7 separate regions of the Homo sapiens genome follow, and regions 2, 3, 4, 5, 6 and 7 are each linked to region 1. Evidence: fine-mapped expression QTL. A gene starts in region 1. Each other region holds a variant in brackets. All regions are shown on one strand. Distances are between the middles of the regions.

Region 1 (4,067 bases):
TTACTTGGATTGAAAAAAATATAAACATTTGGCAAGGCAAGAGCTGGAATAGTGCATGGCAACACTCACCCGGCTGAGTCACAGCCTACCTCGCAAATGGGGCTGTACGTGCTTTCCTGTTTCCGCAAGTACCCATCAGCCCTTCACTGATTTACGTTGCCTGCTTGGTTCCTGGAGGCAGCCAGTTCCAGACCCTGCCCTAGCCTGGCCTTTGGGGTAGAAATGACCATCCCAACAGGACAGGAATTTCCTGGGAGGGGAGGGAGTCTGGCTCTGACTTCCTTTAGACCACCTGGGGGAAGAGACCCCTTTGCTTATAGCCTTCCCCACTGTGTACACACACTATGAGATTTTTAATCTTGGGACAGTCCTGAGCAGCTATCATCTGCCAAAACATGACCTGCCACCAGGACCACGCATGAACAGCAGATGCGAAAATAAGCAGCCACTCCTGCCCTGATTTTCCTAACATTTAACCAGTAGAGCACTTATATTTTTGTCAGCTGTCCCCTGGGAGAGCAGGGAGTCAGAGATCCATTTCCTGGAAATCACTCCCGGGCCAGATCACATAACCCTTTTTCTGTGTCTGAGATCCTTTCACCACTGCCACCTTCTCTGGATCCCATCTTAGTGCTGGGATGCGGGGAAGTGAGAAAACAGGTACAGTCGTTCCTTGGGGTAGGTTCCAGGACAATGCCCCTCACTCCCCATCCCTCGGATACCAACATCCACAGCTGCTTATGTCCCTTACATAAAGTGGCATAATATTTGCATATAACTTATGCACATTCTTCTGTATACTTTAAATCATCTCTAGATTACTTACAATACCTAATGCAATGTAAATGCTAAACAAAGTTATATTTTATTTTTATTTGAATTTTTGTTGTTTTTTTTAATTTTTATTTTTAAATATTTTCTGTCTACAGTTGGTTGGATCCATGGATGTGAAACCTGGGGATAGGAAAGGCATACTGTATCCCCTGCCTTGTAGCAGCTCACAATATAATGGGGAATGGTTCCCTGCCAGCGAACATGCTGTGTTTCGTTCAATCATTCAAAACATTTGAGTGTCCACTGTGTGCCAGACGTGCTGGTCCCTCTGCTGTGCACATCATCCTCCTTGGTGTGATGCTCCTTCGAGGCTCAGTTCAGATGCTACTTCTCTGCTTGGCTTTTCCAGACTGCATGATACCCAGGCTGCCTGGCTGGGTCTTCCCATGTATTCCACCCCTGACCTGTACTGCCCCTGTTGCCAAGCTATTTATCAAATTATGTGATTAATATCTGGGTATTTTCTTACACTGGACCTCACTCATAAGGGCAGGAGCTCTGTCCCGTTCACACACGATCCTTCCCCGCCACGGCACTGCCCAGCACACATATGCTAGCAAAAATTATTTGACTGAATAAATCAGTGGTTTTCCAAGGAACAGATTGGAAATTTATGTGGGCATTTTTGGGTGTCACGAGACTGAGGGGACAGTCATATCCCTGTCGGGGGTGGGGGGGGCAGGGATATGAAACTCCTGTAATGGATGGGACAGTCCATTACAGTCACCATAACAAATGGTCCTGTCCCGCACAACTTTCAGATATCCTGCCAAACTTTCAAGTAAGCCAAAAATCCGTTATAATTGGTTGTACATACAATCACAATGAATTTTTCCCTAGTTTTAGTACACACTAGACTGTCTGGAAATGCATATATCAGGTTGGTTGTGGGGAGTTACACTTTGCTCACCATTCTGGAAAATCGCTGCCCACCCTGCTCCCCACGGGTGAGTCACCCGAACAGCATGCTCACGTCTGTGTACATGTGTAGCTGTCACAGTGACTCCGCGCTTTTATATAAATATATTTAGCCTTTGACTCAAGATGTCAGATATAAACTGTTGGCAAAATTCAGCTGAATATTGTCTTCTAGTAAACCTAAGCTGATTCCTAAGTTGGGTACAAGCGTGATCGGGTGTAAGCCAGCCTCAGCTTTTACAAAGTGAAATGCATATTCTTTTATTAGAAATTACTTTCATGTCCCTGCCTTCTCCTTATAAACAAAGGGCATCATATTGATTTTTTACCCGGGGAACCATCACCTGGGCTGCAGCCTCAGGACGAACCTGTGCCTTCCCTCTGTCTCAATTTCCTGCTTTGGGAAATAGGAGCCACAAGCCACAAACTCCATCCACCGCGCCACAGGAGCGAGGTCCAACGCAACGGTCCCTAGGGCCTGCCTCCAACCCAGCCTCAGTTTCCTATCTGTCACATCGTTCTATGATCTCGAAATGACTATAACCCCTTTCTTAGCCCCAAACCAGCCGGAAGCGACATCTTCCGGTTGCTACAGGTTACGGCGGTTGCTATGGGCTACGGCGCCTGCGCAGAAACACCGCCAAGCGACTCAGCAACTTCTAGAGCGCATGCGTTTCGCCCACCCAGGCCCGGGCGCGGTTAGGGGTGACTCCCACGATCCCTAGCGGCTGCAGAGTGGAACATGGCGGCCTCCTTGCCGCTTGCGTTACCAGAGTCCACCCGGCCTCGTGCTTTCTCCGGGCGCCCGTAGCTGGCGCCGGCATCCACAAAAATAGATCAGGTAAAGCAGCAGAGTAAGGCATAGGAAGACTTGGTCGGGCTCCGCGGCCCCTCTTTACCGGATTGGAGGCTGCGCGGGTGAAATCGAGCTTTAAACTCCCCTGGCCTCGGAACACCATTTGTAGCCTCTGAAGGAGGAGGACTTATAAGATTCTGTACTAAGGCAGCCGTGGGAAGGGAGGAGAACCAGGTCGGCCCGCGCGCTCCCGGCTGCTTTTGCTCTCCCTTTGGTTTCGAAAGCGTCAAGTCCCAAGGTATTTCCTACCAATTGTGACGTCACCCTTCCTCCCCCGTTTCTCACCCGTTTCTTGTCTGGCCGTGACTTCTGACCCAGTGTTGAGCTAAAAATGCCCCGCCCCACCCTACGCAGATTCACCCCGCGTCCCACCCACCAGTGACTGAGTGACTGGGCTTCTGCTGCCTAGGGAAGGGTTCTTGGCTTGGCCGGGCAAATCAATTCCCACAGCAAAATCAGACCGAAAGCCTGTTATGAGGGACTCAGGCAGTTGGATGTGGCGTATAGGAGGAAGGCTAGGGCAATCAGGAAGGTCTCCTGGAGGAAGGAAGAAGACCCTGACTGGGCCGTGTAGGATGGATGTTCAAGTGGGAAGAGAGTGTGCTATTCCAGGGACAGGGAGGCCCAGGCCTGAGAGTCCAGTTGCCTTCTGGATCCCGTTTACCTCGCAGATTATCCAAACTGGACTCGTGATTTTCCCCAGCTGTGCCGCGCCTCCCCAGCGGTCTCACTGAATCCACCCATGGGCTATGTCAGAAATCTGGGAGTTATCCTCAGCTCCTCCCTTTCCCTTCTGAAGCCATACCTACTTCTTGCCCTCAAATCTCTGTGACCTGACTTCTGGTAATGTTTCCATTCTCACCATCTCATTCTTCTCCACACTTATCATGAAGTTCATTTATTCCAGACTACTTTAGGTTGAGTCCTAAAAGTCAGCCTGCTAGTTCATGCCTCCATGCTTTTGCAGGTGCTATTCCCTCTGTCTTAAGAGTCATTCATGCCTTCTCTCTTTTCCTTGTTGTGAACTCTTTTTCCTCCAATTTAAAGCTTTCCCCCACCTGTACGCATGGAGATTGGCAAGCCTCCCTTCTCTAGACGACAGCATTTCTTGTATTTGCCTCTTCATCATATATTCCACAAGTGTTTGTTAATCACCTACTATGAGCAAGGCCTTCTGCATTTCCTAGGTTGGATTTCCACTGTGCTGTGTTTGTTTGCTCATCTCCCTCACTGGTCAGGAAATGTCACTCATTTGTTAACCCCCAGTGCTGAGCACAGTGCCTGGCACACAACAGGCATCCCATTACTATTTCTGAAAGGAGTGGAAAAGCAGGCACAGAGAGAAGAGAAAGCCTGATATCCTAAATATACAGTCTTTCTTCCCATGCCTGTCTGTGTTTGCAGTCAATAAGTAGAAAGTCTTTCGAAGAATAACCTGGGCCTGGAAAAGGAGAGAAAC
Region 2 (4,067 bases), 43 kb after region 1:
GGGTGGAAGGGCAGAAAGAGAGAGAGGGCTGGAGGCCAATAGGTGGCTGAACTCATTTTTTTATGAGGAACCCACTCCCATAATAACAGCATTAATCCACTCATGAGAGCAGAGCCCCCATGACCCAACCATTTCCCATTAGGTCCTACCTCCCCACACCCACTGCACTGGGGATCAAGTTTCCAACACATGGAACTTTGGGAGACACATTCACGACATAGCAGAGGACCACTGGAGAAAGGAAGGTTTTTAAAGATTTTTTTTAGGACACTATGGAAGTGATAGCCATTGGACATGGATGGTGTTTTTGTTTTTGGCATGGGAAAAGGCTTATACAACTCTGGTCAACTTGGCAACACTAATCAAAAGTCAAAATCTCCTTTGACCCTAGGGATCCCCTACTATTAACAGTATTATATCTTATAGAACCTAGGTATTTAGGAAAGAAAAAAATGTTCAAAGATGTATTGACATTTAATAAAAGCAAATAACTGGACATAACCCAGCTATCCAAATACAGGCTATCAGGAAACACTGTGAAGGACTTTGAAATAGGTCTTGCCCACTGCCCCCACCCCTGCCTCCAATTACTGAGTGTTCTGTCTAATCTAGCCCACCTTTCTGAGTTGATTCCCTTTCATTTCACTGCCTTTGAGCTACTTTACAATTACGTAAATTAAGGGAAACTGATAATGCAGATGATTCTTGTTCATAGAAATGCAAATTGTGACCAATGGAATATAACTGATTATTGTTCTGCAGGTATCAGCCAATTTTGCCAGTTTTGTAACTACGAAGCAAACTCATTTCAGCATTCCTGCTAGGCTTATAATTATTTGTTCTTTGGATTCTCCTTTGAGCCAATTAAAGTGTCCTACTGGTTCTCTCAATAATTAACAAGTTAAATACAATCATCTTTAACATGTTACTTTTATATTTGTATGAGTCATAATTTTAACTTCTAAAAAAATTATCCTTTAACAAGGTAGTTAAGTAAATTTAATGTTCATGTGGTATAATTTACTTAGCAGCCCTCTTAAAACAGTTATAAAAACCATATGGCAACAGGGACAAATACTCCTGATAAAAATGGCAAGTGGGGAAAAAAGCAGAAATGCAAAATTTGTACTACGTTGTGATTAAAGCTAAACGTTGTAAGTGCTTAGGGCAAGAAATAGGAAGGAGAAAAAAAATTGAAGTTGGATTTGTTTGTTAGGGTGGTAGGATCCTGGATTAAAAAAAAAAAACAAAACCCTGACATTATTCTGTTATACATTAAAAATAATATTGGCGGGCATGGTGGCTCACGCCTGTAATCCCAGCACTTTGGGAGGCCAAGGCAGGCGGATCACGAGGTCAGGAGATCGAGACCATCCTGCTAACACGGTGAAACCTCATCTCTACTTAAAATACAAAAAATTAGCCAGGCGTGGTGGCACGTGCCTGTAGTCCCAGCTACCAGGGAGGCTGAGGCAGGAGAATCACTTGAACCTGGGAGGCGGAGGTTGCAGTAAGCCGAGATCACGCTACCGCACTCCAGCCTGGGATACAGAGTGAGACTCCATCTCGGGAAAAAAAAAAAAAGTTGGCCCTGTATTAGTTTCCTATTGTTGCTGTTAACAAATGGTTTAAAGCAACACTAACTTATCACCTTAGTAATAAATTCTGCAGTTCTGGAGGTCAGAAGTCCAAAGTGGGCATCACAGGGCTAAAATTAAGGTATGGGTGGGGCTGTGTTCCTTTCAGGAGTCCTAGGGGAAAATCCGTTTCCTTGCCCTTTCCAGCGTCTAGAGGCTGCCAGCATTCCTTGGCTTGTTGCTCTCCTTCCTCCATCTTCAAAGCCAATAGCTTAGCATCCTCAAAAGTCTGTCCACCCTCACGTCGCCTTCACTGATGCTTATATGGATCCATGTGCTTACACTGCATCCGCCCAGGTAAATACAGATAATCCTCCTATCTCAGGGTCCTTACCTAACCACATCTGCAGAGTCCCTTTTGCCATGTAAGGTGACACATTCACAGGTCCTGGGGATTAGGATGTGGACATCTCTGAGGACTCCCATCCCCAATCCAGAGGATTTCCCTGAAATGCCAAGTTCAG[T/G]GAGAACAGCTTCCCATATGCCTGAGTGAAGGCACAATACTGACTGTGCGAAAGGACATAGTGTGGGACTCCATTTAAATTAAATGTCAGAACAGGCAACACTAGCCTATGGTGGAAAAGAATTACAATTACCACCTCCAAGGGCGGGGTGGGGTTGACTGGGGAAGGCCATATTGGAATTTTCTGGTATGGTGATGTTCTTTATCCTGGCAGGGGCACAAAAGTGTAAACAAACACTACTCTCTAGTCTAGTCAATGACACGTACTGGGGGAATTGTAGTGATGTCTGCCATTTACTCTGAAGAGACATAATGGATAGTTTGATGGACAGATGGATAGACAGGTGATATATAGATACAGTAACATGTTTATGATAGAATCTAGGTGGTGGGTATACAGGTGTTCATTTTAATCATCTTTGTGTTGTTTGAGAATTTTTATAAAAATGTTGGGGATGGTAAGATGTGACCCTGGAATATGACTCTGGCACTCTAAAAACCATAAATTAACAAAAAGAACTTAGAAAGCCATTAAGCAAGCTGTTGAATAATTTCCTTTTTAAAATCAATGGTTCTCAACCTGGGCAATTTTGGAAGGTGTCTAGAAAGGTGTGGGAGCATTCTTGACGGTCTCTAGAACTCTCAGTAAGGGCAAAGTGTTCCTGGCACCCAGGGCAGGGTCCAGAGAAGCTACTGCAACCACGCAGCCTCTCCACAGGACTGTCTTTCTACATTAAATGTTACTGAGGAATACCAATTTAAAATCAGAGTCTTCTCTTCGTATCTCATTAATTTGCTTGCAGTTGCTTGTAGCACATCTCCAAGTGGACTGTGACTCACTTCTCAAAAATGTGTTGTATCTCCCACTTTTCTGTAACCCAAGAACCCCGAGCATAGTGCTCTACCCAGAACACATATTTAATAAACATTTGGTAACAGGGGAGGGGATGTTCCCTGACTATCCCAGCTTGCCCTTTCAGGCAGCTCCTTTGATGCAAACCTACCCCACATTCCCCCTCCTCTGACCCCCAACCCGTTAATAGCCAGTGAGGAAGGATGTTCACTGCTGCATTCTTCTGCCAAGACACAATCTTGAAACTGCATCCCCACTGCCACCCTCCTTCACCCTGCCCAACCCCATCCCCCTGCACCAAATGGCAGGGGAGGCACCTGAAAATAACCACCATGACACAGAGCTGAGAAAAGCCGGCATAAAGCACTTTTATTGCAATAATAAAACTTGAGACTCATAAATGGTGCTGGGGGAAGGGTGCAGCAACGATTTCTCACCAAATCACTACACAGGACAGCAAAGGGGTGAGAAGGGGCTGAGGGAGGAAAAGCCAGGAAACTGAGATCAGCAGAGGGAGCCAAGCATCAAAAAACAGGAGATGCTGAAGCTGCGATGACCAGCATCATTTTCTTAAGAGAACATTCAAGGATTTGTCATGATGGCTGGGCTTTCACTGGGTGTTAAGTCTACAAACAGCACCTTCAATTGAAACTGTCAATTAAAGTTCTTAAGATTTAGGAAGTGGTGGAGCTTGGAAAGTTATGAGATTACAAAATTCCTGAAAGTCCATTAGAAAAACCACAGGATGAAAAAAAAAAAAGGCCACAAAGAAGGCTTCAGAGGTCCCTGCTGGCCCAGGGACAGATACCTGTAGTGTCCAGCATTGCAGTGAACATGATCTACTTTCAAAGGCAGAGGGTTTAAGGGGAGGGTGGGTGGGAATGGTGGAGGCAAAGGCTCTCCCCATCCCCACCTCAGTTTTAGGTAGGGCTTTTAATTTAACCCAAAGACATCTCTCAACTTGGAGAGTAATTCAGTCCTCAACAGCGCCTCAAATCTGCTATGGCTTTGCAGCGCAGCAGCAAGAATGTTTAATATATAATAGATAAAAATTTCATCCAAAAAATTAAAATAAAATATTCTTGCAAACCCCCCCCCCAACACCAATTCCTAT
Region 3 (4,067 bases), 600 kb before region 1:
CTGGCGCCTCATTTGGCAGAGCTGTGCATCTGGCCCAGTTACTGTGGTAGCCTTGGAAGGCAGAGTGCTCTGGGGCTTCCTTGTCATCTACCTGCGTGACCCTGCATGAAGGGTATGCCCAGCCCTCAGCTGGACTGCCAGCCCCACAGGCACCCTTGGTGCCCACCACACAGCAGGAGCTCATCCACAGATGGGCACAAATAGTGATACCAGACAGTGCCTCTGAGTCCTTGCTGTGCTAGGCACTGTTCTAAGTGCAAATTCCGTTCATCTTCACAGCAACCCTTGCAGTGGGGGCTGTTAACCCCATTTTAGAGATGAGCAAACTGAAACACAGAAAAGCATAGGAAATTGCCCAAAGTTGAATGAATGAATGAATGAATACAATGACAACTTAGGAAGGAAGGCATTTTACTGAAGAGTGACAGGCCCACGGTCACACAGATAGTAAGTGGAAAAAAATCAGGGCTGGAACTCATGACTCCAACATCACCTCCCACCTGTCCATAAGCCCAGTGACAGCAAGGCTGGCACTCCCTCACACTTGGGGTTGAGGCCAGTAAGAGCTGCATTTGTGGAACACTGGCCAAAGCAAACCCTCTGTGCTGAGGGCACTTCAGCCAGTGTCTCAAGCCTGTCTGCACTTCTTCTTTTTTTTTTTTTTGAGACAGACTCTCACTCTGTTGCCCAGGCTGGAGTGCAGTGGCGCAATCTCGGCTCACTGAAACCTCTGCCTCCCCGGTTCAAGCCATTCTCCTGCCTCAGCCTCCTGAGTAGCTGGGATTACAGGCACGTGCCACCATGCCCGGCTAATTTTTGTATTTTTAGTAGAGATGGCATTTTGCCATGTTGGCCAGGCTGGTCTCAAACTCCTGACCTCAGGTGATCTGCCTGCCTTGGCCTCCCAAAGTGCTGGGATTACAGGCGTGAGACACCATGCCCAGTCAACTGAAGTTCTTTGAGAGTACTGTTCCCATTTTCCAGATGAGGAGCCTGAGGCCCAGCGAAGGCGAGCAACATGGCCAAGGTCACACAGCCAGTAGGTGTGATTCCAAAGTCCCACTTTCTGTCTTCCATCAGGTAGTACTATCTGCCTTCCACTATGGAGGGAATGTCCCATTGGGAGACGCCTAGGATGGGGGCTAAAGAAAGACAGGCAGGCCCGACACCAGCCTCTCTCTCTTCTGTCTGCTGTCAACACTATATCTTGGTGCCATTCTGCCCACTATTTGTAGAGAGGCCTGGGTACCAGCCTCTTCACTTTGTCCTGGAGGCCAGGCCAGGCAAGGATCACTGTACCCACTTTTCTTTCCTTCCTTCCTTCCCTCCCTCCCTCTCTTTCTGCCTTTTTATTAAGGTATAAACCACACAAAATAAAGTACATAGAGCCAGGTGTGGTGGCTCACGCCTGTAATCCCAGCACTTTGGGAGGCCGAGGGACCCCCCAGCCAAAGCCTGGAGCTCAGAACACAAATGCTCCCCTTGTTGAGAGTGGGGAAAAAAATCTCTTTTCAGGTGCCAGCCTTAAAAAGAAAGAACAAAAAAGGTAACTCACAGATGACCGTGATATGTGACGTGCATCTGAGCCCTTCACACAACCACAGAACTAACTGTCTGCAGCTGCCACAACAGCTGACCCCTCTGCCAGGCAGAGTTTGCTATCAACCAGTAACAGCTCCCAGAGGTTTTGTTATCCCTCTGTAGAAATGGAGGCTTGAGGCCAGGTGCAGTGGCTCATGCCTGTAATCCCAG[T/G]ACTTTGGGAGGCTGAGGCAGGCGGATAACCTGAGGTCGGGAGTTCGAGATCAGCCTGACCACTATGGAGAAACCCTGTTTCTACTAAAAACAAAAAATTAGCCAGGCGTGGTGGCGCATGCCTGTAATCCCAGCTACCAGGGAGGCTGAGGCAGGAGAATCACTTGAACCTGGGAGGCGGAGGTTGTGGTGAGCCGAGATCGTGCCATTGCACTCCAGCCTGGGCAACAAGAGCGAAAGTCCATCTCAAAAAAAAAAAAAAAAAAAAAAAAAGAAATGAAGTCTTGATTGACTGAAGTAGGAGGAGCCAGCGCACAGGCTTTGGAGGCAGAAGAGCTGGGACCAGCTCTGGAGGTTTGGGAACATGACTCCACCTCCCCGAGCCTCGTACTGCTGACCAGATTGCTTTTGCAAGCATTGTACTACATCTTCACACAATGCTGGGAGGCAGCTGTTACCAACCCCATCTTACAGCCGGAGACCCTGAGGCTCAGGGAGGTAAGGGATGTGTGCAGAGACATGCACAAAGTGGAAAAATGTGAAAACAGACCTCATCGTGCAGTGTTATTGTGCAATTTGAATTGAATGAGGGATAAGAATGTGAATGGATGCAGTCCACAGTAGGTGCTTAAGTCTTGCATGGGGTCTAATAGCCGGTGAGTGGCAAAAGGAGAACTTGTACCCAGATCTGCCTCACCCCAGAGCCCACCTCTGAGCCTCTTCATCCATGGGAAGCCATCATCAGCATGGTGCCTGGCACCGAGTGAGCCTTTGAGAAAGGGTAACTGGGTCAAAAATTATTTTCAGAAAGTTGAAAACATGGATCTTATACAAATGTATAGTGAGCACATGTCAAAGTGTTATTTAACTCATTAAGGATGGAACCGGTAGGATGGCAAAGCTGACTCAAAGGAGGATAAAATGGCAAAGTTAGCTACGACATAGGTTAATGTCTTACAGGGCACCAAAACCATAAGCTTTAGCGTTATTTCTTCTACAGGTCAGAAATCATTTGCAACTCGTGCACTTTTTACAAGTTACCAGGTAACTTTGCTTAGGATCAGGTGACCCAGGCTCATCGGACACTGCCTTCGCTTGATATTGAAAGGGCACACAGACACCCTTTTTGTCTTATTTCCAAGTTTTGGATATTTTTTCTTTACAGTTATTATCATTCCACTTCTCTCTGACGAAAGGCTGTTCACAGGCCTCACAGGTTCCCAGGAGCCCAGGGACACGCAGACCCCACCCCACCCATTCACACAAGGACTCAAGGACAGAGCCTCTACCCACAGATGAACTTGGGTGGTGCACAGGCACACGAGCTTGATGGCAGGGCACGCCCAGGCTGAAGGGGCCGGGTGGGAGCTAAAACGTGTGGTCTATGGTAGCCCAGCCTCTTTCCTCAGCAACCACGCCATGAAAAGATCCCTACATTATTTGTCAGGTAAAATAAAGCGACCCGTAGCTAGTGGCGCGAGATTCTATCCAGCTTAATACGTGTGTATGTGCAGACACATTTATGAGTGTGCATGCAGAGAAAACTCTCTGGGGAAATACCCCCTGAACTGACAGCCATGGGGAGTGAGGGTGAAGCGGAAACAATCTTGTAAAAGAAATTCAAAAACCGAAGCCCACTGCATTGTTTAAATTGGTTACGTCCAACTTGTTTTCCTGTGTTATCTGTCGCCTGTTAATACACACACACAAACACACACATAATAGAATGGGATAGAATATCTATATATATCTAATATATATAATATCTAATATATATAATATCTAATATATATAATATCTAATATATATAATATCTAATATATATAATATATATATAGAGAGAGAGAGAGAGCGAGAGAGAGAGAGAGAGGGAGAGACGGAGTTTCGCTCTTGTTGCCCAGACTGGAGTGCAATGGCGCGATCTCGGCTCACCGCAACCTCCGCCTCCCGGCTTCAAGCGATTCTCCTGCCTCAGCCTCCCGAGTAGCTGGGATTACAGGCGTGCGCCACCACGCCTGGCTAAATTTTTTTTTTTTTTTTTTAATTTTTAGTAGAGACGGGGTTTCTCCGTGTTGGCCAGGCTGGTCTCGATCTCCCGACCTCAGGTGATCCGCCCGCCTCGACCTCCCAAAGTGCTGGGATTACAGGCGGGAGCCACCGCGCCCGGCGGGATATTATATTTCCATAAGGCCCTCCGGGGGCCTGGGAACGGACTGGTGCTTGCGTGCGGGGCTTTTCCACTGGTTCCCTTCCGTACTCGGGCTTCCCCCGCTGTTGTTACTCCCTCAACGGGAACACAACTCCACCGCCGCCTC
Region 4 (4,067 bases), 35 kb before region 1:
AGGCCTGCCAGACATTGCCCTGGAAAGCCAGCCCAGGTCACTTGGCCTAGCAGAGTTTGCCAGTCATTTCAGAGTCACTCATGCCTGGGCCTGCTGATGTCCGCTGAGGTGATAAAGCAAGAATTATTTCTGAAGAAGGGAAAAAGAGAGATCTCCTTCGACAGGTAATAGTGATAGCAAGAAATGTTCAGTCCTCTAATTTCCCAAGAACTACCCCCATCCCTCCATTCATTACCTTGGTTGGATCCCAAAGAGACAGCAGGGCCAGGAAGGTGGCGCCTTCCTGAGTGAATGCATGAGACAGCTGAGACGAACAGAGGTCAAAGACCCAAGGTCACCAAGATGGACGATGTGATATGGCTCAGAGGAGCTGAGGGTCTCTCAGTGGTGGGCTTGCACAGCAGCTGGGCTGCTGGGTGGGACGCAGCAGTTGTTGGAAGAGGAAAGAGCAGTGCTCCTCATGGAAAGGGCTTCTCCTTTGCCTGCGAGGCTGATTCTTAGAGGAACAGGGAAAGTCACTAGTTAGGGAGAAGGCACATGAGGAATTTCTTTTTCTTTTTTTCTTTTTTTTTTTGAGATGGAGTCTCCACTCTGTCGCCCAGGCTGGAGTGCAATGTCGTGATCTCGGCTGACTACAACCTCTGCCTCCCAGGCTCAAGATATTCTCCTGTCTCAGCATCCCGAGTAACTGAGATTACAGGCACCCACCACCTCGTCCAGCTAATTTTTCTATTTTTAATAGAGACAGGTTTTTGCCATGTTGGCCAGGCTGGTCTTGAAATCCTGACCTCAGGTGATCCGCCCACCTCGGCCTCCCAAAGTGCTGGGATTACAGGTGTGAGCCACCGTGTCTGGCCAAGAATTTCTTTTTAAACGACTCTCTGTAGTATGCTTACCTCTTATGTCTGTGATGCCCTGCTTTTATGGAAGTATGACCAGCCCAAAATGCAGGTATATACCTGCTCATCTCCATTGTGGTATCTTAGAGTCTCATGGAAAAGTAGGTTTTTTCTTTTATGCAGCAGAATGATAAGTGTCCCAGGTCTACTGTATTATGAGACCTTCATGATGCAGTAGAAATGCAGGTGCCCATGACCTGGAAATCCAGGGTCCAGCCCTTGGTGACTCTTGTAACCTCTGAGGCTTCAGGTTTCCCATAGATCAGATGGACTAGTCTCTACCTGGCCTCCCTCTATGGGGAATTTGTGTGAGGATTCAACGAAGTTGTGAATATGCAAGAGCTTTAGGGGCAGCCTCAGCTACCAGTCTCCTCCAGGCTGACCCAAAGTCTAGGGAAGCATCCTGGGCCCAGCTACCTGAAGTCAGGTAGAGGGGGGGCACTGGCTCTTGCTCCCCTTCTGCTGCAACTTGCTGAGCCATTCTGGAAGAGTCTCTACCCCTTTCTGGACCATGCCTGTCTTTTTATTAATGCAACGGTTCATTTAAATACACACACACACACACACACACACACACACACACACACACACACAATGGAGTCAGGGGCATGGTGGCTCACACCTGTAATCCCAGCAACTCAGGAGGTGACGCTGGTGGATGGCTTGAGGCCAGGAGATTGAGACCACCAAGAGCAACATAGTGAGACCCCACCTTTAAAAAAAGTAAAAAATAGATTAGCCAGGTGAGGTGGCTACTGGAAAGGCTGAGGCAGAAGGATCGCATGAGCTCAGGAGTTTGAGGCTGCAGTGAGCTATGATTTTGTCACTGCACTCCAAGCCTAGGTGACAGAGTAAGACCCTGGCTCTAAAAAAAAATTAAATATATATCACATGTATTTTTAAAAATTTGTTTTTTATTGAGATATAATTTACATTCCATAAAATTTATCCTTTTAATAGCCAGATGCAGTGGCTCACACCTGTAATCCCAGCACTTTGGGAGCAGGGAGGCCAAGGTGGGTGGATTGCTTGAGGCCAGGGGTTCAAGACCAACCTGGCCAATATGGAGAAACCCCATCTCTACTAAAATATACAAAAATTAGCCAGGTGTGGTTGTGCGTGCCTGTAATCCCAGCTACTCGATAGGGTGAGTCATGAGAATCACTTGAACCCGGGA[G/A]GCGGAGGTTGCAGTGAGCTGAGATCGTGCCACTGCACTCTAGCCTGGGCGACACAGTGAGACTCTGTCTCAAAAAAAAAAAAATTAAGTTTTTAAAATGTACAATTCAGGGATTTTAGGATACTCACAAAATTATATAACCATCACCACTAGCTACTTCTAAAACGTTTTTTATCTTCCCAAAAAAGAAACTCCATTCCCATTACCAGTCATTCCCTGTTCCTTCTTCCCTTCCAGTGTGTTTTCTGTCTGTGTGCATTTGCCTGTGCTGGATATTTCATATAAATGGAATCATGCAATATGCGGCCTTTCGTATCTGGCTTCTTTCATTTAGCATAATGTTGTCAAGGTTCATCTGTGTTGTAGCATGGATCAGTAATACTTCATTCCTTTTATAGCTAAATATTCCATTGCATAGACGCATCACATTTTGTTTATCCATTCTTCTATTGGTGGACATTTGGGTTATTTCCACCTCTTAGCTATTAAGAATAGTGCTACTGTGAAGTACACTTCTTATACAAGTTTTTGTTTGAGCATCTATTTTCCATTCTTTGGGGTATATACCTAGCAGTGGAATTGCTGGTTCTTATGGCAATTCTATGTTTAACTTTTCGAGGAACCACCAAACTGTTTTCCATAGCAGCAGCGTCATTTTACATCCCCACCAGCAATACATGAGAGTTCCAACTTCTCCACATCCTTGACAACGCTTGTTATTGTCCATCTTTTTTATGCTAGCCATCCTAGTGAATGTGAAACAATATCTCATTGTGGAAAATAAGTATTCCATAGATTTTTAACCTGAAAAATCCTTTTTAAAAAGTAGTCTTACTTCACACCTTCCATATGTAAAACACATACGAGAGGAGCCTCTTCAGGTGAAATGGGGGAGGAGGCCCAAGCCACCCCTCCCAGTAGGTGCAGAGGCAAGTCCTCTTGGGTGGTTTGAAGACCTAGGCTTGATGCCCTTCAGCTCTGGAATCTGAGTCTAATCACTGGAGACACATCCTGTGTAGCAGCTGCCTCAGCCCTCAACCTATGCTGGTTGCCTGGGGAAGCTTCTCACAGCATTTGGCCAAGTTGTGGGTCTGCCTTGCCGCTGTGTTGGGGTTGCCACAACAGTGAGAAGAAGTCGGATGGCGCCTCATGTGTGGTCCCAGCTTTGAGGGTGGCTTGTGTGGGAAACAGGAAGCAAGCTGGAGAAATGCCAGCAAGTCCTGGAAGGAAGATCCTAGGTTTTGTTGACAAAGGAGGAGCAGAGGCACATAGTGGCTGATGAGGCCATAGCCAGTGCAGGGTTTACTGAACTCCTCAGCTGTGAATAGCCCTGGTAGTGCTAATCTTCTGAGATCTAGAGTGTGGCTGCTGGAACACTCCCAGGCCTGTCTTCTATTCCCACCTCTCTGCATTAGCATTCTAGGAGCACCAGGCACTCTGCTGTCTGATGGGTGGAATGTTCTGCGTTCTAGTGTTACCTTGGCAAAGAGAGGATCCCTCCCAAGTTCTGCTCTGTTGATTGCAATGCTCTGCTTTCCACAGCTGTCAGTGGTTTGAGTCATCAGACACAGATTGTTCTGTTCCCTCGGATTTTAGGATAGCTTTCTTCTTGTATCAATGGCTAATTCTTTGAAAGAAGATAAATTATAGTACATACAGGGACTTTTGCTTAGCTGGAATATTAGATTAACCCAAGCACCTGGTTTTTCCCCCATGACTGTTGATTGGGGAAAATGCTATCATGTCTCTTTGAAGAATGGAGCTTCCTAATTTTACATATGTGGAAACTGAGACCCGAAAGTCCTAGTAATGAAGGAGAAAGAAGCATCAATTAGAAGCCCATAATTTCATTGACAGCTCTAGAATTAGAGAATGTTAGATCCAGAGCACCTTAGAGACCATCTAATCTGACTCTTTGGTCTATTCAATGTGCTTGTTTAAACCATTGTATTACCAACAGTTGTGTGTTGATTGTGTTTGTTTTTATGAAG
Region 5 (4,067 bases), 59 kb after region 1:
AAAAAGAGTAGGCAGTGGCATTTACTAAAATGCTATATATGTTTAGCTCCCACATACACACTGGCAATGAATGAAAAGTGCTTCCTCTCTTTGGGGAGGGAACAGGTAAAGCAGGCAGCAAGTCAAGTCTCAGCAGCTGCTCCAATTTTAACTCTGGAGATCACTTGTGCCAGGAGCTGGAGCCCTTGAACAGTGAAACCACCTGCCAAGTTAGTGCCATAATTTCCTAAAGAAAGCGTGCCCTGCTCAGAGAAGGCAACTGAGGTTACAGTGCAGACAAGACAGCTGACAGTCTTTAAGCTCTAAAGGCCACTCAGCATAAAACATCACAAGCATTGCCTTCTAATTGCAGAACTGACCAATTTCATTCCTGGCCGTACAAGCCTATAACTCATGCCTAACAAACTGCCTGGAATAGCTCCATATTCTTATTTTAAGTATTTAGTCTTGGCTCTCCTGACTGAATGCAGCCCAAGCTCACAGACCTGGCCTGCGTTCTGTGTCCTGGTGGCACGTATGGTGCTGGTACTCAAGAGCACTCTTGGATTTGCTTTACTTGCATGATTTTTAAGAACCAGAAGGACAAGCATGAGGCCTTCATATTTAGACCTTCTTCCCTATATGGTAACAAGAATATGAGGGGTAATCCCAGAATGGTAAACTTTACTTTAAGCACCTTTAGTTACTAATCAGTAAGAAAAATGTGAAAATGTGCTCCAGTTAAAAGCACAAGACCATGAAAGAAGCCAAAGCTATGACTGACTGCATGCAGAGGCTGTTGACGTCATCTTCGCCTGGGTCTCCTCCTGAACTGAAATCCTTGGAAAGGGAGCAAAAGGGTTTACAAAACAAGACGGTGCAGAGAGTCTCAAGTCTGTCTACTCCACAGCAGCCTGCTCTTTCCTGTTGCTTTTCAAGGAATCAGCAGAGGGAGACCTGGCCAGCAGCTCCTGGGCAGCAAAGTATCCCCAGACTGTGTTCCTGGTGGTTGGCTCAAGCCACTGAAGCGGTGGTTAAGACTCAAGACCAGGACCTGGAGATTCACAAGGACCACTGGGATACTATTTCACTAATAACCCAATAGAAATGGAGTCACTTCCAAGGCACTCTGCTTTGGGGAAGGGCAGAGTGCCATATACCTTCTACTGGGTAACAGGACTGAAGAAGGCACCTCTACAGACTTATGGCTTCACTACTTGTAGTGAAAGCTCATGACTCACAATGCAGTTTATAGTTGCTCATGAATCTTTGCAGGAGTGTTTCCTATAGGCAGCATTTTACAGGGACAAAATATGGGAAGTTTTAAGATTAAAAAAAAAAAAATGACTAAACTAAACCAAAAATCAAACATAACAAAAAACCAGAATATCCTAAGCCCCAAACCTTCAAAATAAAATAAAGTCCTTGCCATTTACAGTTTGGAGAGGGAAAAGGATTTCTACTTTCAACACGCAGGTGAGTTTCTTAATGACAAAAAGTACAATGAGGCCAGCTGCGGAGGAGGCTCATGCCTGTAATCCCAGTGCTTTGGAAGGCCAAGGCAGGAGAATCACTTGAGGCCAGGAGTTTGAGACTGGCATGAGTTTGCAACCAGCCTGGGCAACACAGCAAGACTCATGTCCCCAATCCTGTTTCTGCAAAAAATTAAAAAAAAAAAAAAAAAAATTTAGCCAGACATGGTCCTAGCTACTTGAGTGGATCAAGTGGGAGATCACTTGAGCCCAGAGGTTTGAGGTTGCAGTGAGCTATGACCGCACAAGTACACTCCAGACTGGGCAACAGAACGAGACTCTGTCTCTTAAAAAAAAAAAAAAAGGTGTAATGGTTGAATGGGTGGA[G/A]GTAGGGGGAGCCAGTATTTTTCTGCAGCTTTGCATTTGAAGCCACTCAGAACATTCCCAGATGGGCGTATGGCTCAAGGTCTAATGGTTTAGCTGTTTGCTTTCCCTCTTCTTATTAGACACAGAAGTTCTCTTAACCACCTTTTACTCAGCTGCCTTACTTGGAGACTCATAAAACTCACAGCCTTCGTACCCCAGCATAGTGAAGAGCACTCCCCTCATGCTTTAGTCTCTAGCTCATGATCACTTCTTCATTCCCATATGAGTTCTGTGTTCACAAAGGGAGGAGTGGTTAGCTGTGTTTGTCCCCAAATCCATTTATGGTAGCTATATTTACTGTGTAAATATAATGTAATTAAATAGTATGTAAATCAATAAAATGAGTGTGAATACAAACAGCGGTTCTAGCTGACTCCTGGGAAAGACTCAATAAAGGCAAGTCACTAAAAAACTATTGCTAGTGAATAATCATATGGGAGACTACATTTAGAGAAAGAAATCTTAAAAATCTGGAAAGGTTTGGTTTTTAAATGTTCTCACAATACTCTTTGCTCTACTTTAAAAAAGGTCAAATTGGTTTTTGCAAGAACTATGATGGGAAACTCCACTAGCAGAGCCATCCTCAAAGATAAAGACATAGTCCTTTAGCAAATGATTTATGTTAGAGTTTGAAATCAAATGTTTACAGAAGCCATGTCACTTTTATGTTAGCATACCAACTACCCACTTGTCTCAATCATGATGGGTAAAAAGGGATTCTACATTTAGATAGGCAAAAGATACAAATTCAAATCTTACATTCTTATTATTCCATTTCTGGGTCTCTGTGGCTGTATTCCAGCACAACCTCCCTGAAGTGGGGTTCTGAGAACTCCTTATGAGTGAGGGGTATGACCAAAGGTCCAAGTGCCAACCCAAAGAGGGAACCAGCTCACTCTCACTATCATTTTCCTGAGATCACCAACAGTGCAAGCACATTTCCCATACGCAGTATGGAAATGCTTCTAACCTTTGGCTAAATCCCTTTAGATCCTATAACCAAAAGTGTATTTTCAAAGGCAGGGCCCATGATGGGAAGAATATGCAGGATCCAACGGCAATAAAAAGAACACAGACCAGAATGCATGCCCTGTGGGTGTGTCTCTCCATTTTCCACTTTAATCACAGTATAAATAAGAGGAGTTACTACCACATTATATCGCATGGGGAGGGGGAGAAAGAAATACCACTAGGCCGGGTGCAGTGGCTCACGCCTGTAATCCTAGCACTTTGGGAGGCTGAGGCAGGTGGACTGCCTGAGCTTCGGAGTTTGAGACCAGCCTGGGCAACATGGTGAAACCCTGTATCTACTAAAATACAAAAAATCAGCCGGGCATGGTGGCGTGCGCCTGTAGTCCCAGCTACTTGGGAGGCTGAGGCAGGAGAACTGCTTGAACCCGGGAGGCAGAGGTTGCAGTGAGCCGAGATTGCACCAGGGCACTCCAGCCTGGGCGACAGAGTGAGACTCCATCTCCAAAAAAATCAAAAGAAATACCACTTAACAATAGCTAGCTGGAAGTGGTAGAAATATGCATTTTCTATAGGGTATAATGGTTAAAGGCATGAGTTCTGGACCTCTGTTACAGACTATTATTACAACTCCCTCCCTGGTCTCCCTGCTTCTGCTCTTGCTCTCCTACAGTCTAAACCTGACACAGCAGCCAGACCCTACTACCCCTCGGCTGAAAAACTCCTGTGACTCCCCCATCTCAGGAGATAAAACTCTTAAAATGGCCTACAAGACCCTCTAAGAAGTGTCAAGCCTCCGCCCCTACCACCATCCCTCTGACTTCACCTCTGATTACTCTTGTACTTTTCCAGTCCCAGAACATTGTTTCCTTATGTTCTACATACACACCAGGGATACCTCCACCCGTGGGCCTTTGCATTTGCTGTTCTCTCTGCCTAAAATGATCTTGCTCAAACAGTCACATAGGTTACATCCTTACCTCCTTCAAGTCTTTGCTCAAATGTCACTTTCTCATTGAGGCCTTTGCCAATCTATCTAAAACCTCAACCTTTTCCTATTCCCTCCTTAACACTTACTAGCTTATACACAACAGTCTTGCTTATTAATCATATTTATTATGTCTTTTCCACTACAGTGTGAGATGAAGGCAGGAACTGTGTCTTCTTCACTCCTAAATTCTTGGTAGCCAGGACAGTGTCTTGTACATAGCAGACATTCAT
Region 6 (4,067 bases), 53 kb after region 1:
AGAGGAAGCTATAAGGCAAGCTTTCACCCTCATTCTAGTGCCAAGTGTCTCACACCAACAGGGAACCTGGGGCGTAAAGCTGGCCCCTTGTAGGCTGGTTCCTGAGTTGTCATAATTTTCCTGGGAAAGTAAAAACCAACCTAGGCTGAAATAGAGAAATGAAAGAAAGAATTTGTGCAGCATTCATCCCACTTATTTTATCCAATGCTGCCCCACAAAACAACCCATGCTCATTTTTGCACAGCTAATACTTTGTAACAGAGATGACTGAAGAGAACAGGAATACTAAGGAGGTTGCAGTGGTGGCCCTTCAAGAATTAACTCAGTAAACCCAGCCAACTGCTAGCAACTCTGTGGCCAGTGGTTCCACTCTGAGTTACTCTAAATGGGCTAGGTGCTTTCCACACATGAACGAATGCAATTCTTTCTCCACAGCACTATCCCCATTTCACAGATGAAGAAACTGAGGCAGACAGGGAGAAGTGAAAATAGTAAATAGTAAAATTTACTATTATAAAAATAGTAAATTTATAATTTAGTAAAATAGTAAAACTACGTTATAAATTATAAACCCAAATACCATGCTCTTTCTATTATTCCAGTTTCCCAGAAGCTGGACAAGCCACGACGGCGCCTTCCAATAAAAGGGGAACTCCAGAGACGCTATGAGAAAAGAGGAACAGACATCTGCAATAGATATCTGCAACTTCCTTTTCAAAAACACCATCGGCATTGCTTTCTCAGGAAGCCACTGCCAGCCTATTGTGATAGCTGACACTGAGTTCCTGAGAATTCTCTAATTAGGATCCCAGATTGGAGGGTCAGCCAGTGGTTAACATATAATGGACACAAAACTGATTTTACTGGAAGACTGAGGGTGGGCACTCACCATGGTTCTAAGCATTCATTACTCAGAAGATCCATAAAAACATTACAGTTCTGTTGTGTAAGAGTTTAGGAAAAAAAGAAAATCCTGACAAAAATCCCAACCTAAAAAACAGTGTCAACATTTGTAAGTAGGATGGGGAGGCAGAGATGAATTGGCAGTGTTATCACAGCTACTGGACTATGTGGACTTTAACAAAGTAAGAAACGGGTGGGGGTTGGGTGGTGGTATCTTAATAGAGCAGGAGTAGAGACGGATGTCCTGGGGCAGAATGGGTACCAATGCTGCCTGAAGCCTGGAGCTGGGAGCTGAGGACTAAGAGGTAGACAGGAGGGTGGGGACCGGTACCTGCTCCAAGGAACTGGTGCCCCAGAACTGGTGAGCTGGGGTATGCATTTAGCTCATTCGTTTACCAGAATGCAGTCACCACCTGATGAAAGAAATGACTAATGGCAGGACTTGAACAGTTCTCTATAAATGAGTACCTGGGAGAAAAACAGGTCTCCAGGCTCCACAATACCCAATAAACACACTGCCTTTAGCCCACTTCAAGCTGCACTTCTTACATGGAACCCAACCCAACCAACCTCAGAGGTAAGGGTGAGAGCAGGCAATGAACAGCTATGATTCTCCATTCCCTGGCCAGGCAGGGAGCCTTTCCATCCACCCTCGTGAGACTGCTTGTAACAGAAATAAGGAAACCGACTCCAAGGCTCAGTAACCCACCCAAGGTCAGAACCACGGAGTGGCAGGGCCTGTGAGCCACAAAGGAGACTGAAAACCAGAAAGAGCTTCTCTCTGGTCTGTTATTTTAAGAAAAACATGCCCAGAGGGGCCACCTGGAAGCAAGGCTGTGTGGCACCCTCACCTTCCTAATTAAACAACAACTTCCCAGGAGCAACGACAGCAACAACAGCCTGGCCCAGCAGATGAACTCGAATCAATCCAAGCCCTTCCCCTATACGGGTCAGTTTGGGCACTACTTTACCTGCTGTGAAGTCTACTGGGATCTTCCAGGAAAGTCC[C/T]ACCTCATTAGTAAAAAGAAAAACAAAGACTCGGGAAGAAAGTTCCTGCCCTCCCTGTTGAATGCTGTGTGAGGATAAGATGTCTGGAGCATGGCAGTCACCCTGTGACTATCAGAAGGCCAGGCGTACCACAAGGTGGTCATTCCAGTGCTCTGAATCAGCCCCAAACCACTTCCCTCAAGACTCATGTTCTGAGGTGATTAAAAGTGTGCTTTGAAGGTAAATCTAGGATGACAGTCAACAGATCAGTGATTGCCAGGAGTCAGGGGTAGAGGGAGGGAAGAACAGATGGAGCACAGAGAATTTTTAGGGCAGTGAAAATGTTCTGTATGATACTATATATAATGGATACATGCCATTATACACTTGTCCAAATGCACAGAATGTACACCACCAAGAGTGAACCCTAATGTAAACTATGGACTTTGGGTGATCATGATGTGTCAATGCAGGTTCGTCAATTGCAACACACGTACCATTCTAGTGGGGGGTGTTGATAACAGGAGGCTATGCATGTGTGGGACCAGGGGATATATGGGAAATCTCTGTACATGCCTCTCAATTTTGCTGAGAATCTGAAACTGCTCTTAATGAAGTCTTACAAAAATAAAGAAGTCTGCTTTGCCTTAGGTTGGGTCTTCAGTTACCTGCAGCCAAATGAACACAACTGGCGTGAGGTAAACCTCTGACACTTAGTGAGCACGCTACAATGTAGTGCTGCCACGAAAGGAATAACAAAGAAACAGAACTCAACAACTAAAACCACAAAGAACTATCCCTGATCCGCGACAATGGGAACAGTGTCTCATGTCAGGACCCAGTACACACCCACATTTTGTCTGTGTATAAACAAAATTTACATGTAAGTTACTACATGGCATATACTTCTCATTTTTAAAAAGAATGCTGATTGTGACCCACTACATTTATTTCATGATGCATTAATGGTTCATAACCCACAATTTGGAAAGTACGGTATACCTATAAAAAATTAGCCTTATTTCTTGCCAAACTTGAACACGGCTCTGACCTGTGCAAGATCGTATTTTGATTGCAGTGAAAGCCACAGGGTACTGAGACAGACTCCCTAAACTTCCTTTTTATTCCTGATCAAATGCAATGCCAAGCAACCTCCAGACACTACATGCATCAATGTATCAATGTTGCTTTGCCTGAGGTGAGATACTTCAACTATCTATCTGACTGGTACCAGGCTAGGAGCACTAGGCAGGACACAGCCTGAATCTGCTGCTGCTGCTGCTGCTGAGCCAGCATGGAGATGTGTATGTTCTTCAGTGGCTCTATGTGAGGATGCCTGTCTAACCCCAGCTCTCCTGAGCCTATCTTGGACACTGAGGGGCAAACCTCTCCCTAGTATCTTAAAACCATAAAAGCCAGGAAGCAGGATTTCTAAGTAAAGGAGCTTTAAACAGGACCTTTGCCTAGGATCTTAATTTTCCTATGCTATTTTGGATGCTCTGTTGTCCCTGGGAAAGGGGCATGAGACTTGCTCCAGAATTTCAGACCACAGTCACCAACTGTCAATCTCATCTACTTTCTAAGGAGAAATCTTCGCAGGGCAGGGTTGGGTGGTGGCAGTGATGTTGGGGTTCCTTGAGTCCAAGGAGAGGATTTCCCATAATCGAGTCCGAAAGCTAAACAATAATCCCCCGAAATGGGTGGGGTGGTATGTGATTAAGTGGGTGTCACACAACTGGCACAAGCTACAGGACAAGGAGAAGGAGGGCTTCCCCAGTGGGGAGGAACAGGCCACTTATCTATGGCCCTAAGTTGTCAGCCTGGGGGAGAAGGTGGAAGCAGTGTTTGTTAAGCTGGAATGAGTGTGCATGTGTAGGAATTATGCTGTTCAGTCTGTAATGTCAAAACAGATAGTGAGAACTTCCATTTCTGGTCACGGTGGAGGACAAGGATCAGATTTGTTCATGAAACAACCAACAACCAACCAACCAACCCCTTCCTCCCTACAAAAAGTCCACTAAAACCTAAAAACCACCTAGACAAAATAGCTACAACGATGGTTTGTAGGACACCAGACATCTGTAATGAAGAACAATAAATCCTGAGACATGGGAAACAAGGGCAGCCCTATATCCTTGGGAGTTTCCAGGGAGAGGGACCTGGAGTGGAGCTCAAGG
Region 7 (4,067 bases), 34 kb after region 1:
CAGCTATTCACGATGCTGAGGTGGAAGGATCGCTTGAGCCCAAGAGGTGGAGCTTGCAGGTGAGCTGAGATCACGCCACAGCGCTCCAGCCTGGGTGACAGAGACAAACCCTGTCTCAAAAGAAATAAGTTAATAAATAAAAAATAAAATAGGCTGGGCACAGTGGCTCACACCTGTAATCCCAGCGCTTTGGGAGGCTGAGGCAGGCAGACTGCTTGAGCACAAGAGTTTGAGAGCAGCCTGGGCAATGTAGTGAGACCCTGTCTCTATTTTTTTAAAAATGATTTAAAATAAAATAAATCTTCCATTTGGGGTTTCTTTTTCTTTTTTTTTCTTTTTTTAAGATGGAGTTTCACTCTTTGTTGTCCAGGCTGGAGTGCAATGGCACAATCTTGACTCACCACAACCTCCGCCTCCCGGGTTTAAGCGATTCTCCTGCCTCAGCCTCCCAAGAAGCTGGGATTACAGGTGCACGCCACCACGCCCAGCTAATTTTGTATTTTTAGCACAGACGGGGTTTCTCCATGTTGGTCAGGCTGGTCTCAAACTCCTGACCTCAGGTGATCCGCCCACCTTGGGCTCCCAAAATGCTGGGATTACAGGCATGAGCCACCGCACCCGGCTGGGGTTTCTTTGTATCTTTTATTTATTGAACCTTTGTTTTTTGAGTGTTCATAGTTTCTTGTTAAAAGTGTTTTTGTTTGTTTTTTAATGATAGCTGCTTTAAAAATCCTTGCCAGACAATCCCAACATCAGTACCATCTTGGTATTGGCATCTGTTGATTGCCTGTTCTCATTCTGGTTGACTTTTTCTGTTTTCTGACATGACAAGTAATATTCAATATTATCAGTACTTTGGGTATTATGAAACTCTGATTCCTTTTTATATTTTCTACTTTAGCATGCATTCAACCTGCTTCAATTCAGAATGCACATCATGACTCACTTCTGTGGTCTGTGAGTTTGAATGTCAGTTTGGTTTCAAATTCAGCGTTATCTTGGTCTGCTCTGCCTGTGTGCTACCCAGAGACCAGTGGATACCCAGAAACCCGAGTGGTATTCCACAGCATAGCTCAGTTCTTAAAGCTTTTGCTGTGTTAATTCTGATGAGTTTCACACATAGGCCACTTGGGGATGTGCACAAATTGAAAGACGCTTTTTCCGCAGCTCCCTCCTCTCTGTTATTCTGCCCACACTCTCTGTGAGGGGGTAGGTGCTGCCTCTGTTACTGCAGGACAGGTGGTAGTCAACAGGGCTCTACCCTAGAGTGTCCATAGCATCCCATGGGAAGAAGGAGGAGGGAGGGGGTGTCACCTCTTATCCCATTAGTGCAGGATGGGGCTCATTAATAGAGCTCCACTTGTCTCCAGAATCACTGGTGAGGAAGGGGAGTGTTGCCCCCACATTCGTGCACAGCAGGGATGGTTCACCGAACTCCACACCAGTCTCTGCAGAGCCTGTTGGGGAGAGGAGGGCTGTGGTTTCTTTGATGGTGTTCACCTGGAGTAGAGCAAGTATTGTCAAAAGGGTCATCCTCGGAGGTTGCAGTGAGCCGAGATCGCACCATTGCACTGCAGCCTGGGAGACAGAGCAAGACTCCATCTCAAAAAAAAAAAAAAAAAAAAAGGCCATCCTTCATTACTGTCCTCTTCTAGGTCCTTTGACTAGAGAAAGCATTTTCCTTAGGACTTTTGTTGTCTGTGCTTGTTGGTCATTTCAGATTGTGCCTTCCTCTAGTGCCCAGGTTGAAATACGTGAACACTACGAAAGCCTCTGGGAACTCCCTGCCAGGTCATCCCTTGAGACTTAAGTTTCCTTGCCAGTCTGCCTAGTTTACTTCACCTTTAGAGGTTTCTGATAGTTGCTTTATGTATTTTGTCTAGTTTTTAGTTGTAATTAGCAGAAGGAATAGGGTGGAGTCCACTTACTTTATCTTGTGTGAACATGGAAGCCCCATGTATTTTTTAAATAAACTTTTTGAGGTGTAATTTACATGAAATAAAATGTACCCATTTAAAGTATACATTTCCATGAGATTGACAAATGTGTATATCCATGTAACCCTAACCACAATCAAGATATAGAACACTCCCATTACCCCAAAAGGTTCCCTTTGTCTTCCTTCCTAGTCAGTTTCCTCCATCCTGAGCCTCAGACCTGGCCTGATTTCTGCCAGTGTAAGTTGAACTTGTCTTTTCTAGAGTTCCATATGAAGAAAATCACATAGAACGTAATGTTTGTAAAAGTCTGGGCCGGGCACGGTGGCTCACGCCTGTAATCCCAGCACTTTTGGAGGCCAAGGTGGGTGGATCACAAGGTCAGGAGATCGAGACCATCCTGGCCAACATGGTGAAA[C/T]TCCATCTCTACTAAAAATACAAAAATTAGCTGGGCATGGTGGCACATGCCTGTAATCCCAGCTACTCAGGAGGCTGAGGCAGGAGAATCGCTTGAACCAGGGAGTCGGAGGTTGCAATGAGCCGAGATCGCGCCACAGCGCTCCAGCCTGGTGACAGAGTGAGCTTCCGTCTCAAAAAAAAAAAAAAGTCTGGTTCCTTTTACTTATTATAATATCTGTGAGATTCATCCATATTGTTGGCATTTCAGTAGTTCATTCCTTTTTATGTTTGTTTTTGCTTTCATTTGAATTGTCACTATCCTATGCTCTTGCCTGACAGACCCTGAGAGCCTACTGACCACAGCAGCTCCTGTTACCACGGCTGCCGTTTCTGCTCTCAATGCTACTGCTCATTGATCCCAGGGAGGAAAATTCTGGTGCATCACTTAGTATTTATTTCAGGTATGGTTAGGACATTTCAGAATAAAGGATGGCTTCTTCTGGATGTATCTGAATTGATCTGCTGTCATATACTTATGAATCACATGCTCAGACCAAAGTACATAAAAAAGTCATTCTCTTTCCAGACAATTTTAGGGGTTTGTAACCTTGGTCTTATATTGCTCCATGGCCTATGAATTAGTAACAGGACTAGTGAAATTCCTAGTAACATAGTCCTGTTACTACAAGATTACCCATATCCTTTGATGATCCATCTACTGCAAACTCATAGAATTTACTGGACAGTCTTCTTCATTTTATGTAAGAATGACCACTGTATCATCATATGTCAATGTCCTGCATAACTGTCACCACCCCTCCATGCCGAATACCTGGTAGCTTGTGATGAGTTGAGAACCTCACTAAACAGTCTTATCCACATCCTCAGGTTCTCTGAGGTTTTCCTTCTGTCCAGTCCATGCACTTGTACCCCTGGTGGTCGAAGTACAGTCACGCACTGCGTATGATGTTCTCATCAGTGGTGGGCTGCATACACAGCAGTGGTCCCATAAAACCATAATGAAGCTCAAAAATTCCTATTGCCAACTGGCATAACGTCATGTAGTGACACATGACCTTTTCTATGTTTAGATCTGTTCAGATACACAAATCCTTACCACTGTATTCCAATTGCCTGTAGTATTCAACAGTCACTGTACAAACCTGCTGTATAGTTTTGTAGCCTAGGAGCTACAGGTTGTACCGTATAGCCTAGGTGTGTGGTAGGTAGGCTATACTATACAGATTTGTGTAAGTATACTCTATGATGTTCACACAATGGTGAAATCTCCTAATGACACATTTCTCAGAATGTCTCCCCATCACTTTGGCCAGCTGACTCAGTTTGTGATGGCAATTGTGAGACCAGTTGAAGGGCGATCTGACCTGTATATTCTCTTGGTTAATTGTATTTACAAATTGGATACATGATTTCTCTGATTGCTCTCTTCACAAACTACATTTGAATATACAAATGAAGTGCTAAGTGGTTTTTATACAGGGAAACAAAGCCAGTTTTGTTTTCTACCAATGCAAGTTTGGATAAATTCTTTTCAAGAAGATGACTAAATATTTCCCATTTAGCAAAGTCCTCAGATAAAGAGATGCCAGGTATTTCTCGTTATGTTGGTTTCTGTATTACTATCTGTTCAGACACAAGCGTCCTTAAAAATGTGCTTAGTTGTAATTTCTTCATAGATTTCAACCAAAACAACATATTGCAAGATTGAAT

Which allele goes with the higher level. Alleles are on the strand shown, and positions count from the first base shown. SD is a standard deviation of normalised expression in the study named. Not every link is listed here.
For the expression in caudate of the gene that starts at base 2,407 in region 1, allele G in region 2 goes with a lower level than allele T (moderate effect, 0.71 SD a copy in GTEx).
With allele G in place of T in region 3, the expression in esophagus mucosa of the gene that starts at base 2,407 in region 1 is higher (small effect, 0.26 SD a copy in GTEx).
For the expression in whole blood of the gene that starts at base 2,407 in region 1, allele A in region 5 goes with a higher level than allele G (moderate effect, 0.72 SD a copy in Lepik 2017).

What was found. PIP is the estimated chance that this variant, and not a neighbour inherited with it, causes the effect.
Region 2: its variant is fine-mapped to the expression of SDCBP2-AS1 in caudate (GTEx, PIP 0.93).
Region 3: its variant is the best candidate, but not a certain one, in a credible set for the expression of SDCBP2-AS1 in esophagus mucosa (GTEx, PIP 0.81).
Region 4: its variant is the best candidate, but not a certain one, in a credible set for the expression of SDCBP2-AS1 in whole blood (INTERVAL, PIP 0.61).
Region 5: its variant is the best candidate, but not a certain one, in a credible set for the expression of SDCBP2-AS1 in whole blood (Lepik 2017, PIP 0.50).
Region 6: its variant is the best candidate, but not a certain one, in a credible set for the expression of SDCBP2-AS1 in whole blood (TOPMed, PIP 0.69).
Region 7: its variant is fine-mapped to the expression of SDCBP2-AS1 in whole blood (INTERVAL, PIP 0.92).

The regions. Positions count from the first base shown.
Region 1 is chr20:1,322,937-1,327,003 of GRCh38, forward strand. SDCBP2-AS1 (SDCBP2 antisense RNA 1) reads left to right here and starts at 2,407. Exons shown (of 3, transcript NR_040049.1): 1 at 2,407-2,593. The region is part of intron 1 of SDCBP2 (syndecan binding protein 2); the gene reads right to left. All of the region lies in intron 2 of FKBP1A-SDCBP2 (FKBP1A-SDCBP2 readthrough (NMD candidate)), which reads right to left. It overlaps LOC124904856 (a long non-coding RNA gene), which reads left to right. Exons shown (of 2, transcript XR_007067487.1): 2 at 930-1,433. RefSeq lists enhancers at 2,469-2,698, 2,689-2,983.
Region 2 is chr20:1,365,681-1,369,747 of GRCh38, forward strand. FKBP1A (FKBP prolyl isomerase 1A) reads right to left here. Exons shown (of 5, transcript NM_000801.5): 5 at 3,298-4,067. The region is part of intron 2 of FKBP1A-SDCBP2 (FKBP1A-SDCBP2 readthrough (NMD candidate)); the gene reads right to left. The region is part of intron 1 of SDCBP2-AS1 (SDCBP2 antisense RNA 1); the gene reads left to right. Among named protein-coding and RNA genes, the nearest start is that of MIR6869, 25 kb to the right of the region's middle. The variant T/G (reference allele first, on the strand shown) is at 2,102.
Region 3 is chr20:724,011-728,077 of GRCh38, forward strand. No RefSeq gene overlaps it. Among named protein-coding and RNA genes, the nearest start is that of SLC52A3, 42 kb to the right of the region's middle. The variant T/G (reference allele first, on the strand shown) is at 1,753.
Region 4 is chr20:1,288,065-1,292,131 of GRCh38, forward strand. All of the region lies in intron 2 of SNPH (syntaphilin), which reads left to right. Among named protein-coding and RNA genes, the nearest start is that of SNPH, 24 kb to the left of the region's middle. The variant G/A (reference allele first, on the strand shown) is at 2,077.
Region 5 is chr20:1,382,039-1,386,105 of GRCh38, forward strand. The region is part of intron 2 of FKBP1A (FKBP prolyl isomerase 1A); the gene reads right to left. All of the region lies in intron 2 of FKBP1A-SDCBP2 (FKBP1A-SDCBP2 readthrough (NMD candidate)), which reads right to left. Among named protein-coding and RNA genes, the nearest start is that of MIR6869, 8.9 kb to the right of the region's middle. The variant G/A (reference allele first, on the strand shown) is at 1,839.
Region 6 is chr20:1,376,196-1,380,262 of GRCh38, forward strand. All of the region lies in intron 2 of FKBP1A (FKBP prolyl isomerase 1A), which reads right to left. The region is part of intron 2 of FKBP1A-SDCBP2 (FKBP1A-SDCBP2 readthrough (NMD candidate)); the gene reads right to left. SDCBP2-AS1 (SDCBP2 antisense RNA 1) reads left to right here. Exons shown (of 3, transcript NR_040049.1): 3 at 603-2,540. Among named protein-coding and RNA genes, the nearest start is that of MIR6869, 15 kb to the right of the region's middle. RefSeq lists an enhancer at 1,194-2,393. The variant C/T (reference allele first, on the strand shown) is at 1,912.
Region 7 is chr20:1,357,024-1,361,090 of GRCh38, forward strand. All of the region lies in intron 2 of FKBP1A-SDCBP2 (FKBP1A-SDCBP2 readthrough (NMD candidate)), which reads right to left. The region is part of intron 1 of SDCBP2-AS1 (SDCBP2 antisense RNA 1); the gene reads left to right. Among named protein-coding and RNA genes, the nearest start is that of SDCBP2, 30 kb to the left of the region's middle. The variant C/T (reference allele first, on the strand shown) is at 2,356.